2 linked regions of the Homo sapiens genome follow. Each later gene encodes a partner of the first gene's protein in a complex. Each region holds a gene or a part of one and is shown on either strand. Other genes may lie near its edges.

The links. The genes of interacting proteins can lie anywhere in the genome.
Region 2: STX18 (region 1) and STX7 share a complex: the UniProt entries of both Homo sapiens proteins name them as parts of the SNARE complex.

The regions. Positions count from the first base shown.
Region 1 is NC_000004.12:4,420,049-4,427,079, reverse strand, and holds part of STX18 (syntaxin-18), read left to right. Parts: intron 1-1,857; coding exon 1,858-1,916; intron 1,917-3,492; coding exon 3,493-3,562; intron 3,563-6,135; coding exon 6,136-6,216; intron 6,217-6,950; coding exon 6,951-7,031. UniProt on the Homo sapiens protein: Syntaxin that may be involved in targeting and fusion of Golgi-derived retrograde transport vesicles with the ER.
Region 2 is NC_000006.12:132,447,089-132,454,119, forward strand, and holds part of STX7 (syntaxin-7), read right to left. Parts: 3' UTR 1-7,031. UniProt on the Homo sapiens protein: May be involved in protein trafficking from the plasma membrane to the early endosome (EE) as well as in homotypic fusion of endocytic organelles. Mediates the endocytic trafficking from early endosomes to late endosomes and lysosomes.

The DNA of each region.
Region 1 (7,031 bases):
CTGAACAAGTGTGAGAAATGTCCTTGAAGAGCCAAGTACAGGGGAACTTGGTAACAAGAGTGAGAAAGTAAGAGAAGGTGATTCAGTCTGCCCTGAGGTATCAGATCGCTAGGAAGATGCCTGGGGTTTTGAGGGACCACGTGGAGTTCTGCAGCCAGGCAGGAAACTAGCCTGTCAGAGCAGAGCTGAGATGGGAGATGTCACGTGGCCAGGGCATGGATAACAGTGTGCCCTAGACCTGATCTGTAGGGTCAGCGGGCAAGGCCACCATGAGGCATTCTGGCATGACCAGCACTTGAGATCACTTTGACCAAGGATTGGATAACAGGTTGGAGGCAAGTGAGAAACGGTGAGGGTGGAATGTGGACGGTAGGGGAAGGGCTGAATACAGCAAGTGCATGTGCGGGGGCGAAACTGGTGGACTTAGGAAGGGGCGTGTGTGTGAAGAGCGCCTGCATAGAGCACAGCTGGGGTACTTGGAGGGGAGGGGTCCTGGGTGGGAAGGAGGCTGCTGGGGAGACCCTGCAACTCATTTCCGCCCTAGGACAATGGCAACAAGGTCAGGCTGTTGAATGAAGTGCCAGCATAGCCCGTGGTGGTCAGCTGCCTCCCATAACCATTGTTTCCCTTGTATTTTTGGTTTACTAAGCAAGTGATAAGCCAGATCTTCCATCGATTCGGAGCCTCCAGAGGCTTGCTTGTATGTATCCCTCCCACTCCTGCTTACAGAATGCCTCAGAAAATATTTGTGGATTTGATGGCAGCTTTAATCTATAAGAAAGAAAGAACAACTGGAATGCCTTTGCAAAGTTATGTTCCACCCAGTTCCCGCCCTCAGGAAGCTCAGGGTGACACGGGAAGTTTGGGATGGGCACAGTTTATTACAAGGCAGAAAGGGACCGTTGGGCGCTACTATCCTAAGATATTTTCAGAAAATGGTAGGCCAAGGATAGGAATATGAGAAATAAGTTTGAGCTTAGGGGCCAGGGTAGGTGTCCTGGAGAAGTGGGGCCTGCGGGATGCATCGGGGAGGAAATGCAGGACGCCCCTGACTCCCTGCACATTGCGGGAGTTGAGTGGACACACGAGGACAGGGCTGTGGGGGCCTGCAGTGAGGGCAAGGAGCTGTTCCTGTCCATTCTCTGTGCTGAGTTTCAGGAGCTTCCATCCTTTTCTTTGGCCCATATCAAACTGGCAAGAATGGCTGGGAGAGCAACTGTCTGTGCCAAGCTCACTCAGCTCCAAGAAGCTCCCATGTATCCCTGGTGTCAGGGCACCCGTCCTCACCCAGCCTGAGCACTGGGAAACACGCTCCTCTGGCTCTGGGCCTCTGTCCCTGTTGAGCAGTGGAGTGGCCAGGCTCTGAAGTCAGAGGGGCCCAGAGGCAGCTCGGCCAAGCTGCCCACCTCCCCTTCCTCTCCAGACCCTCCCCACACCAGATCCTTCTCCATATTAAAAAATATGTATAGTCCTTCAGTATAGTTCATGAGAGAAAACAACAACAAAAGAATTTTCTTAATAATGGTACTAGAGTCAGGAAGCAGGCCGTGGGATCCCAGGGGAGAGCGGGTAGGTAGATACAGCTACAGCCATAGCAGTCAGCTTGTACCCCTGGAGTGCAGTGGTTGAGATGGAGAAGTCAATTACCAGGCAGCACAGCTGTTTTTTAAAACTTTCTCCTGAAAGCAGGGACGTTGTTCACACTAATGCTAACGGTCGTCCAGCACCGGCTGCCACGTTGCCGCAGCTGGAAATGGGGGCTTCGGCAGTGATTCCTGGAGCGTAGGTCCGCTTTCTTGCTAGACTCTTGCCTAAGTTCAGTATGATGTCATCCTGAGTGTGTCTGTTTCCTCACAGTTTGAACAGGAAAATCAGCGACTAATTGGTGAAATGAACAGCTTGTTTGATGAAGTGAGGTATGTTTGTAGCTCCTCTGTGAGCTGATAGCCTGCTTTACAACTTTTCCAGGAACTAGGAACTTTATTTACCTTGGTGCCCAGGCATCCCCATGGGGCCCTTGGGCTGGTGCAGCCCCCCTCAGCCATTTTGACTGGGCTGGGGTGGGCATGTGGCCTGAATCCACAACTCCCTCAGCTTGTGGGCCTGTGGGTTACCTCCTGCCTGCTGCCACTGCTGCGGGGGGCCCAGGTGCTTCCCACCCCGAGAGATACAGGAGTGACTACAGATTACCTGCGTATAATTTCCACCACCATTCGGGCTGTTTCCACGCAGCGACTCTGAAATGAAATGGGGCCCTTATGAAGGGCAGCTAACCAAGGGAAGCCCTCTTCTGCAAATGGTTCCACTGGGGTCTGCCTGCTCCTGTACCCACCAGGGAGTCAGGAATGCAGAAGGCAAGGCCTTGGTCACTCACACATGCACCCGTTAGCCTCTAGTTTCTGTGGGAAGGCTTGGAGCATGCTGAAAGTAAGGCCCAGGACTTTGCAGAGCCTGTTGTATTGTGGACATGTCCCCCAAATAAAATCAATCCTGATGCTGCACTCACACAGCCTGAGGACTTTCTCAGTGTAGGTGTCAGCCTCCAAGGGGCTCTTCGCCTTCTGCCCTCAGAGATGGACCTCCTAGTCCTCCTCTGACAGCCTAGCTTTCACTGTCTGCCCCACTACCGCCCCCACCCCGCTACTCCCCCATGCCCAGATACTCACTGGCTTTTCTTCCCACATCTCCTCCCCTGCCCCCTGCCACTGTGATACTGTTGGGATTCATCACTGCTTCCACCTGGCCAGGAGCTCAGCTCCCACCACTTTTTGCCTCCTGTCACTTCCTGTCGCTGCTTTGTGCTGGAACAGCAGTTGACTTCAGCTTGGGCCAGCTTCTGTTTCTAAATAGATGTGCCCCCACCCGCCCCCCAGGGTAGCCCATGCTGCCCCTGACACCAGGAAGATGGCTAGCCCAAGTGTTTCAGATCCGACAGAACACTCCGTTGCCAAACCAAGACATGGCATTTTCTAAATGAATCAGAGGAGCTTTTTTCTTGGAACAGGGAGTTGGTTTGAAGGTAAATACACTTTTTTCTTTAACCTGCTGAGCATTAACAAAGCTGGATCATCAGCATATTCTGACCTTCTGAATCCCCACCATGTGTTACCATGGTGATGAGGCTAGGCAGAGAACTTACTGGAGACTGCTTTCTGTAACTGGGGCACAACCAGGCCCTCCCCATTCCCCGAGCAGTGACACAGAATGCAAAGGGCACTGCACACACCCACCTCTTGGGACTGAGGGTCAGTTGGCATGGTAGAGTGGACTTCCAAAAAGACCAGTGTGCTAGGCTATGCCAGAAGACAGGGAAGGTGACCCAGTAAGGAGAGTTCGCCTTCCTCTCCCATCTCCTCTTCCCCCAGCCGACACAGTGTGCCCCCTGTCTCTCCCACCTTCACGTAGAAGATAGGATTTCTTTAGAAGTGTGTAACAGTCCTGTTAGATTACCAAGTGCTAATAGTTAATATGTAATCTGTTCTTTTTATGAAGGCAAATCGAAGGGAGAGTGGTTGAGATTTCCAGACTCCAAGAGATATTCACGGAAAAGGTTTTGCAACAGGTAAAAAAACAAAAACAAAGGAGCTGTATGTTTTCACTCAAAGGGGAATGTACTTGAGAGCACGAGACATTTTTCCCAAAGGCTGCTGCTCTACACAGCCAGGAGCAGAGCCATGTGTTGCTAGCAGGTGTGTGTGCGCAGAGCTCCTCAGGGAAAAGCTCTCACTACCCAGAGCTGCCTCTGCACACGTGTGATGGAGGAGGAGCTCCCCACAGGGGACCCACTGACCACCCCATGTGGTAGCACATGCGGTGGCACGTGGGAGGAGAGTCCAGGCCTGGCAGTCAGGGTTCTGGATGTGCTGGGTAAGCTAGGTAGCCCCCACAAGCTACAGTTTCCCATCTATAGGAGGGAGGGACTCCTGCAGGGTTATTCTCTGTTTGAGAGATAACTGCAGAAGCATCCAGCACGATGCTGACGGGCAGTTGCTTTTCAGTCAGTAGGTTACAGGAGCTCAGACCCAGGCCTCTCACAACGCGCGGTCCATGCCACCTCAGGGATGGTGTCTGCGTGGGAAATAGGATTGTTCTTTTCAAGTGAATTTTCTGAAATTCTTCCAGCCAATAACTGGCAAAACTTTTCAAGACCTGATAAATTTGCCCTTTTATTTTTAGCATCCAAAGACTATGGGAACGTTTGAAAGACAAAATTTTCTCCAGTATTTTAAACTGGACTACTTGACTTAAGATACTTCACTCACAAAATGACTTTCCATAAACCACACAGCCAGAGTGAAATCATTGTAAATGAGGTACATTAAGTCTAACAGTGGTTTGCAAGTTCGGGTTCATAGGAGTCGCCCTTTTTAATAACACTACCCTGCTTCAAACCTCCCAGCGGCTCCAGGGGGCCTGGGAGGGGCGTGCAGAGCATAGGCAGAGCCTTGCCTTGGCTCACCGGGAGTTTCTTTTTCTTTTCTTTTTTTTTCTTTTTCTTTTTTTTTTTTTTGGAGACAGAGTCTTGCTGTGTCGCCCAGGCTGGAGTGCAATGTTGCTATCTTGGCTCACTGCAACCTCATCCTCCCAGGTTCAAGCGATTCTCCTGCCTCAGTCAGCCTCTTGAGTAGCTGGGATTACAGGCATGCCACCACGCCTGGCTAATTTTGGTATTTTTAGTAAAGACGGGGTTTCACCATCTTGGCCAGGCTGGTCCCGAACTCCTGACTTCAGGTGATCCACCTGCCTTGGCCTCCCAAAGTGCTGGGATTACAGACGAGAGCCACTGCGCCCGGCCCACTGGGAGTTCCTAAGTCCTGAGGAACAATGTGTCTTTCTTGTTTTTTCCATCAGTGTTGCATTGTAGTTCATATTGATTCTCTCATTGGAACCTTGGCAGTGGTCACTTAGTTCACACTTTGAGACTCTCTAAAAAGGGGTGATGATGAGGCAAAGCCATCCCAGTAATATTCATTGCTGGGAATCAGAGGCCACATGCTGCCTTCCTCCCTACAATGTGTCAGTCAGGTTTCTCTAAAAACCCACGCTAGCATTCATTCTGCCCTGACCCTGTTAGGAAGCAGCTTCACCACCACCGAAAGGAGGAGAGAAGCAGGCACTCCTGCTTGTAAGGACGTCTAGCACCGTCTCTGCTCCTGTGGGGCCAGACGCCCCCTGTGTTATCCCACGCTTCTCAAGCTTTTCAAGGCTTCGTTTGGAGTAAACGTTTTCTGTAAGCATCCTGCATCCTATTTTGATTTTTAAATTTTAGCCTGTTTTTTAAGAGATATGATGATAGTAAAACACAAAGCACTATTTTTGAAGCTAGCATATGTATTTCGAAGCACATACATTTTAAAGCTTACTTCTGTGGACTTCAGAAAGAAATGAGAGACTAGAAGGGAAGCCCCTGGCATATGGTGGCTGCTCCACAAACAATAGCTCTTAGGTTTTTGTCCGTCACCGGCGAGTGGCGCAGGAGGGATGGTAAGTGTGGCGGAAGGAGCACTGCAACAAGATGGGGTCTCAGCCCTGCGCGGTGGCTCATGCCTGTAATCCCAGCACTCTGGGAGGCCGAGGCGGGAGCATGGTGTGAGCTCAAGAGTTCAAGACCAGCCTGGGCAACATAGGGAGACCCCCCATCTCTACAAAAAATTTTAAAAATTTAGCCAGGCGTGGTGGCACATGCCTATACTCCCAGCTACTTGGGAGGCTGAAGTGGGAGGATCGTTTAAGCCCTGTCTCAAAAAAAAAAAAAGTCTCAGTCCTGCCACTTGGTTGCTGTGTGATGTGACTTTGGGCAAGTTAGTAAACTTCTCTGAGCCGTGAGTTTCCGTTTCATAAAATAGAGGTAATACCTACTTCTTGGGGTGCTGTGAGGATTTGTGGCTATGCAAGTAAAGCCGTTAGCCCTTGGTGACGGCTACTGTTCTTGTCATGATATACGCTTCAGGGAGGAGGAAGTGGCTGTATATGTCAAGCATCCCTAAACTTCAAAATGTGAAGTCCTAAGTGCTCCAAAATCTGAAACTTTCTGAGCGCTGACATGACACTCAAAGGAAATGCTCGTTGGAGCATTTTGGGTTTCAGGTTTTTGGATAAAGGATACTCAACTTGTATTTATCTTTTCTTCCACAGGAAGCTGAGATTGACAGCATTCACCAGTTAGTTGTGGGGGCAACTGAAAATATCAAGGAAGGCAACGAAGACATAAGAGAGGTAGGCACTGTTTAGGTTCCCCAGGTGCGACGTGGCGCAGCACTGAGTCCCAGCAGCGGGTGTTAGTCTCGCCGGCACAGCTGCCCAGGAGCCTTGCTGGGCAGAGCTCACGGGGCTGATCACAAAATTGTGTGACCGCGGAGCTGCGTGTGTTCATGAGACCCACCACCTGTCGCCCACCTCCAGCTGCTTTCGAGAGGCAGTGGCTCACCAGCCTCCAAAGGAGCAATCCAGGGTGGGTGGGGGTACTCCTGGCAGGGTCAGGCCAGCTCTTCATGTCCAGGGATGTACATGGGTAGCTCGTTGGCCCCCACCGAGGGGTCAGAGCCTGGCCCCTGCTTACAGAGGACACTACAGCCATCCTGTTGAGGGGACTGTTTCCCAAGCTCAGTCCTCAGGGTTGGGTCACCACGGACATCATGTTACTGGGAAACACAAAGCTTGCGGTCACACTCTGCTCGGGGCCCTTAACCCTGGGACAGAAGGGAGTGATTCCGAGAGTTGTGTTGAGGGAGAATTGTGCAGGACCCAAATGATGGCCAAACAGAGGGAAATATAACCCATTTGTCTTCTGGTGGATCTCAAAAGCCATCTATTCAAGGTAAGCACAGATGGAACGACACCCATAGTTACAGCCAGGATCAGGAGAGCACGTGGGAAGAGGGGGGCATTTCAGGGCTGCTCAAACCAAAATCCTGTGTGATAAAAACACCTGTGCTCCCGTCCCTGCCCAGGCCATTAAAAACAACGCTGGCTTCCGCGTGTGGATCCTCTTCTTCCTCGTGATGTGCTCCTTCTCCTTGCTCTTCCTCGAC
Region 2 (7,031 bases), on another chromosome or scaffold:
CGTATCTCCTAAGATACATTGGTTAAAAAGATACTAATAAGTTTTTGTGCGTGTAACATTTGACACCAGGCTTTTAAGTAAAACACCCTAAGATGGAACTTACTGTGTAGTGGAAAGAGTTAGACTCACTAGACATTGATTAGCTGACTGACATAGAGCGTTTCTTATCAGTCAACAAAACTATTTCCAGAGAGGCTTGAAATAAAACAGTTGACTTTATGTAGATTATGGTTAATATCTTTTGCAGATTTTCTAAGAAATCTTTCCCTATCAGAGGTCCCCAAAACATTCCTTTATCATTTTCCTTCTAAATCTTTTATACATGCTTAAGAAATATGCACATGCTCTAAATTGGGGGAACATGATCCTTTATGTATTAATTGAATCAACTTTGGTTACCATGTTGTTCTATTTACTTTTTTGCTGCTCGAGCTAAAAATTGAGTGACTTCAAATACAACATAATAGTTTTTTTTTCCGTTTTGCCCTCTACATTTTTACTTTAATAACTTTGTTTAGAACTGTTATACCTACTTCAGTTGAAATTTTTATTATTTTTGAGAGTCTCCTTATCCTTATTAATGCTTTTCACTTTAATATTTGTAAGGCTAATACTGATACAGCTATCCTAACCAGGTATATTTGCTTGTTTTATTTTCCCTAATTCTACTTTTTGTCTTTCTCTGTCCTTGTACTGTCTTTTGTAAACTGTATATATTGAACAAGGTAGACTTTTTTTTTTATTAATCTGGTGAGATAGGCAATTTATATTTATTGTAACCATTTATTATATACTATGCCATTTCTTTGCTTTTTCTATGCTTTTTCTTCCTTCTTGCATTTTTGTGGTCTATCAAAGTTGGGATTTCTAAAGTGTTTTTCCCTTATTTCAGAATGTTTCCTCTCTACTGGTTTGAAAGTTATATTGTATTGCTATTCTTTAAAGGTTATCTGAAAATTTTCTGTTAAGTACTTAGATTAACAACATCTAAAGTCATTCATTATCTTAACTTCCATCCTAAAGAGTATCAGGATCTTGGAGCACTCACACTAACTTCTAAGTGCTCCCGGACACTTTCCCCACATATACATTTCCTGAGTTATGTAAAATGTTGCTAGTATTTTAATTACGCTCTTTTTTACTCCACAGAGTAAATACTTCTTAATATAGACAGTATTTATTTACATTTCCCATGATTACTGATTTTTTAGCTCACCATACCTTCTTGCATCTCAGACTTTCCTCCTAGTCATTTTGCTGTACTCTAAAATTCATCTTTATTCTTAAGTGAAAGTCCCTTGTTTGTAAATTCTCATTTTGAGAAAAAAGTGTTTTTAATATACCCTTGATTTTGAAAGATAATTTCACTGGGCACTCATTCTATTGAGTTATTCTCTCAGTACCTTAATGATGTTATTCCACTGTCTTTTGCCTTCCAGTTTTGGCACTGAAAAGTCTACTGTTGGCCAGGTGCAGTGGCTCATGCCTCTAATCCCAGCATTTTGGGAGGCCAAGGCAGGTAGATCACCTGAAGTCAGGAGTTCGAGAACAGCCTGGCCAACATGGCAAAATCACGTCTTTACTAAAAATACAAAAAAATTAGCCAGGTTGTGGTGGCGCACACCTGTACTCCCAGCTACTCGGGAGGCTGAGGCAGGAGAATCAATTGAACCCGGGAAATGGAGGTTGCAGTGAGCAGAAATCACACCACTGCACTCCATCATGGGTGACAGAGCAAGACTCTGTCTCAAAAAAAAAAAAAAAAAAAAAAGGTCTGTCAATTCGTTATTCCTTTAAAAGTGGATAAGTTATTCTGGCTGCTTTTAAGATATCTTTGCCTTTATTGTTCTGAAGTTTGAGTATAATGAATATACATTGGCTTCCTTTTCCTGGTTGATATACATTTTGCTTCTTGTATATGTGGATCCACTTTTTTTTTTTTTAGACAGGGTACAGTGGCACCATCATAGCTCACTGCAGCCTTGAACTCCTGGGCTCGTGTGATCCTCCCTCCTCAGCCTCTTGAGTAGCTGGGACCACAGGTGTGTGCCACCATGCCTGGCTAATTTTTGTATTTTTTGTACAGATGGAGTTTCACCATGTTGCTCAGGCTGGTCTTAAACTCTTGGGCTCAAGTGATCCTCCCACTTGAGCCTCCCAAGTAGCTGGGACTACTGGTTCATGTCACCACATCTGGCTAATTCTTAATTTTTTTTGTAGAGATGGAGTGGGGGCTCTTGCTTCATTTCCCAGGTTGATCTCAAACTCCTGGCTTCAAGTGATCCTTCTGCTTTGGCCTCCCAAAATGCTGTGATTACAGGCATAAGCCACCATACCAGGTCCCAGGCTTTTCTTAGCTCTGGAAATTTGTCAGCAATTACCTCAATTTTTTTCTATTTTTTACTTCTTAGACTCCAATCAGCACATATTAAACCTTCCCATTCTATCCTTCAGGTCTCATAATCTCTAATTCTTATTTTCTATCCCTTTACCTGTTTTTGCTGCAATATGTTGTTTCCTCAGTTAAAACTTGATAGTCAACAATTCCTTTAGTTGTGGTGAATCTGCTCTTAAACCATTCATTATGTTATATATTTCAATAATTAAATTTCATACCTAAGTTGTCTTTGGTTCTTTTTAATATCTGCCTTTTAACACATCTCTCATTTCATGTTCGTTTTAATTCATACATTATTTAAACATATAACTGTTATTCTACTTCTGCTAATTGCAATACCTGAATTCCTTGAATATCTAAATCTACTGTTTCTCAATGCAAATGGTGTGTTTCCTTGCATGTTTGATTAATCTAGAAGCATTAATTAGGGAGGCTTTCCTTCGGAGGGGATTTTCATCCACTTCTTAGAGTAACCACCAGAGTCCACTGACTTAGGACTACTTTAATGCTTTAAAGCATTCCTGGTTTTATGAAGGAATCTTAGGTTCACTTTCTTTACTTTGCCTGGAGTCCATGGCTTAAGTCTCAGAGGCACAGTTTTCCTGTTTCTCAACTACTTTAATTTTAGCCCACTCTCATTGGTAATAGCCTTTAGTGATTATCTTTCTTTCTAATGAGCCAGGAAATGAACTAATATTATGTGTGTTGTATTTTATCCAAGAACTAACTGTATTTTAGCAGGAGGATCCTTGAGTATACCTAGTCAACCATATGGCAGGAAGCAGAAATCATCTACTTCGTAGTTGATTTTGGTAATTTGCATTTTTCATATAAATTATTCATTTTCTGTTTTGTGATATATTGGCATAAAGTTGTTTATAGTGTCTTATTATTTTAAAATCTATGTTTGGTTATTTATCTGTACTTTCATTCCTAAATTTTTTATGTCTTCTGTTTTTTTCCAAATCGGTTTCACCAAGTTATGTGTACTTTATTTATTTAAAGAGACCAACTTTTGTTTAAATTGATCCTCTCAAAAAAAAAAAAATTGATACTCTCTTCTATAGTATAGGTTTATACTCCAGGGGTCAACCAACATTTTCGGTAAAGGGCCAGAAATTTTAAAATTGAAAAATGCAGGAATCAATATGAAACACTTAATTGATAGGCTCAATAGCAGAATGGAAGCTACTGCAGAAAGAATGAATAAATCTGAAGATAAAATGATAGAAATTACACAGTCTGAACAACAGAAGAAAACAGGCAGAACAAAGATGAACAGAACCTCAGGGACTTACGGAACTACAATAAATCTAACATTTGTGTCATCAGAGTCTCAAAAGAAAGAAGAAAGAAGGAAGACTGAAAAAGTTCTTGAAAAAAATGACAGCTGAAAACTCCCCAAAATTGGCAAAAGACATAAACATATAGATGGTGAGAAGACCTCAAATATAATAAACCCCCCAAATCTACAAGATACATCATGGTTAAACAACTAAAAACTAAACACAAAGGAAAAAAAGAAAAAGAAAAAAGACAAATGACACCTATCTATAGGGACCAAAACAATTTAAAAAACTGGATTTCTCATGGGGAACCATGAAATTTTCTTTCCTTTTTTTTTTTTTTGACAAGGAGTCTCGTTCTGTTGCTCAGACTGGAGTACAGTGGTGCGATCTCAGCTCACTGTAATCTCCGCCTACGGGTTCAAGTGATTCTCCTGCCTCAGCTTCCCAAATGGCTGGGATTACAGATGTGCACCACCATGCCGGCTAATTTTTGTATTTTTAGTAGAGGCGGGGTTTCGCCATGTTAGCCAGGCTGGTCTCAAACTCCTGACCTCAAGTGATCTGCCCGCCTTGGCTTCCCAAAGTGCTGGGCTTACAGGCGTGAGCCACCCCTCTTGGCTGGAAGTGGCAGAACAATTTTCAAGTGCTGAAAGAAAAGAACTATAAACCTACAAGTCTATGTCTAATGTAAATATTCTTCAGATATCAAGGGAAAATCAAGACATTTTCAGATGAAAGAAAACTGAGAGAATTTGTTGCCAATGGAACTACAATAATAATAATAAGGCTAAAGGAGTGCTCTAAACAGAAAGGAAATGATAAATGAAGGAGTTTTGGAATATCAGACATCAAAAGTCTAACAAAAAATACAACCAAAAACTCTACATATAAATCTGAGAGCTTAGATGAAATGGACTAATTCATCTAAAAATACAAACTGTCACAACTCAATATGAAATAGATAAATTAAACAGCCATATAACTATTGTAAAAGTGGAAATTACAATAAAAAGAACTCCCTCCCCCAAAATCTCCAGGCCCAGATGATTTCATTGGAAAGTTCTATCAAATGTTTTAAAAAGCGCTGACACCAATTCTATACAATCCGCTTTAGAAAACAGAAGAGAAAGGAATACTTTCCAGTTCATTTTGAAGCTAGTATTACCCTGATACCACCAACCAGTATGTCGCATTAAAACAGATGCAAAAATCCTTAACAAAATATTAGCCAAAAGAATTAAGCTATATATACAAAGATACACCACGACCAAGTGGAGTTTATCTCAGGGATGTAACAATGGCTCAACATTCAAAAATCAATCAATGTATCTACCACATGAATGGGCTAAAGAAGAAAAATGGCATTATGTAAATTAAGGCAGAAAAAGCATTTGACAAAATTCAACATAAAATTCATAATAAAAACTTGCAGAAAAAAAGGAATAAAAGATAACTTCCTTAACTTTAGCAAGAGCATCTACTTTAAAAACCTACAGCTAACATTATACTTCATGGTGAAACACTGAATCCTTTCTGCCTAAGACCAGAAACAAGCCAAGGATCTCTACTCTCACTGCTTTTATTTCTGCTGGAATTTCTACCCACTGCATTAAGGGACTGAAAGGAAAAAAAAAAGGAATATAGGTCAGAAATGAAGAGATAAAACTATTCATTATTTGCAGATGACATGACTATCTATATAAAAAAAAAATCCCAAGGAATCAATCAAAATCCCCTAAAATGAGTAAGTGGGCTCAATAAGGTCTCAGTATACAAAATAGAAAAATTCACTTTATTTCTATGTACTTAGAATAGACATGTGAACAGGAAATTCAAAATACAATGCCATTTACAATCTCTCTCAAAAATTAAATTGCTTAGGTATAAATCTAACAAAACATGTACAGACCTTGTATGCTGAAAACCACACAATACTGATGAAGGAAAACAAAATTTAACTGAAATGAAGTGAAGTGATCCTGTGATCATGATCGGGAAGGCTTAACATGGTAAAGATGTCAAATCTCCCCAAATTGATGTATAGGTATAACATAGTTCCTGTCAAAATCCCAGTAAGATATTTGAATAGATACAGACAAGATTATTCCAAAGTTTATACGGGAAGACAAAGGAACTAAGTGGCTAAAACAATTTTGAAAAAGAAAGTGGAATAAACCAGCCTATTTGATTTCAAGACTTACTACAGTAATCAAGATTTTGGTGTTGGTGGAGGTATAGACACATAGTCTAATGGAAAAGAATAGAAAACCCAGATATAGACCCACACGAATGTGCCCAACTGATTTCTCATTAACTCATTTTTGCTCAACTGATTTTTGACAGAGGTGCAAAAACAATTCAATGGACAAAAAAGAGCCTTTTCGACAAATATCATGTTGGAGTAATTGAATATCCATAGGCAACAACAAAAAAAATGAACCCAGACCTAAGTCTCACATTTTATACAAAATTAACTGAAAATGGAATATAGACTTAAAAGTAAAACGTAAACTATAATACTTTTAGAAAACAACATAAAAGAGAAAATTTGGGGGATCTAAGGAGAGAGGCAAAGTTCTTGATACCAGAAGCATGATCCATAAAAAGAAAAATGGATAGAGTGGACTTCATCAAAATTAAACACTTCTGCTCTGTGAAAGGCCCAGAAAAGAGAAATGAAAAGACATGCTACTGACTGGGAGGAAATATTTGCAAATCACACATCCAACAAAGGACTAGTATCTAGAAAAAAATACACACACACACACACAGAGGCACACACACACATTATTTAAAAGCCCTCAAAACTCAACAGAAAAAAAATCCAATTAGAAAAGACATGAAGAAACATGTCACTAAAGAAGAGATACAGGTGGCAAATAAGCATATGAAACAAAGATGCTCAACATCATTGCCATTAGCGAAGGGAAAATGGTAAATCAAAACTGCAATGAGCTGTCACTATACACTTATCAGAATGACTAAAATAAAAAAGAGACACCACCAAATGCTGAAAAGGACATGAAGCAACTAGATCACTCATACACCACTGGTGGGTATATAAAATAGTACAGCTACTTGGTATAAGTTTGGCAATTTCTTAAAAACTAAACATTCAACTACTATATGACCCAACTACTATATAACTGCTGGGCATTTGACCCAGAAAACTAGATTATGTTCACACAAAAACTTGTACACAAATGTTTATAGCAACTTTATTTATAGTAGCCAAAAACTGGCCCAATGTCTCTCAGCAGGTGAACAGTTAAACAAACTGTGGTACATCTATACTATGGGATTCTATTCACACTAAAAAGTACCTGTCAATAGACTTGATACAC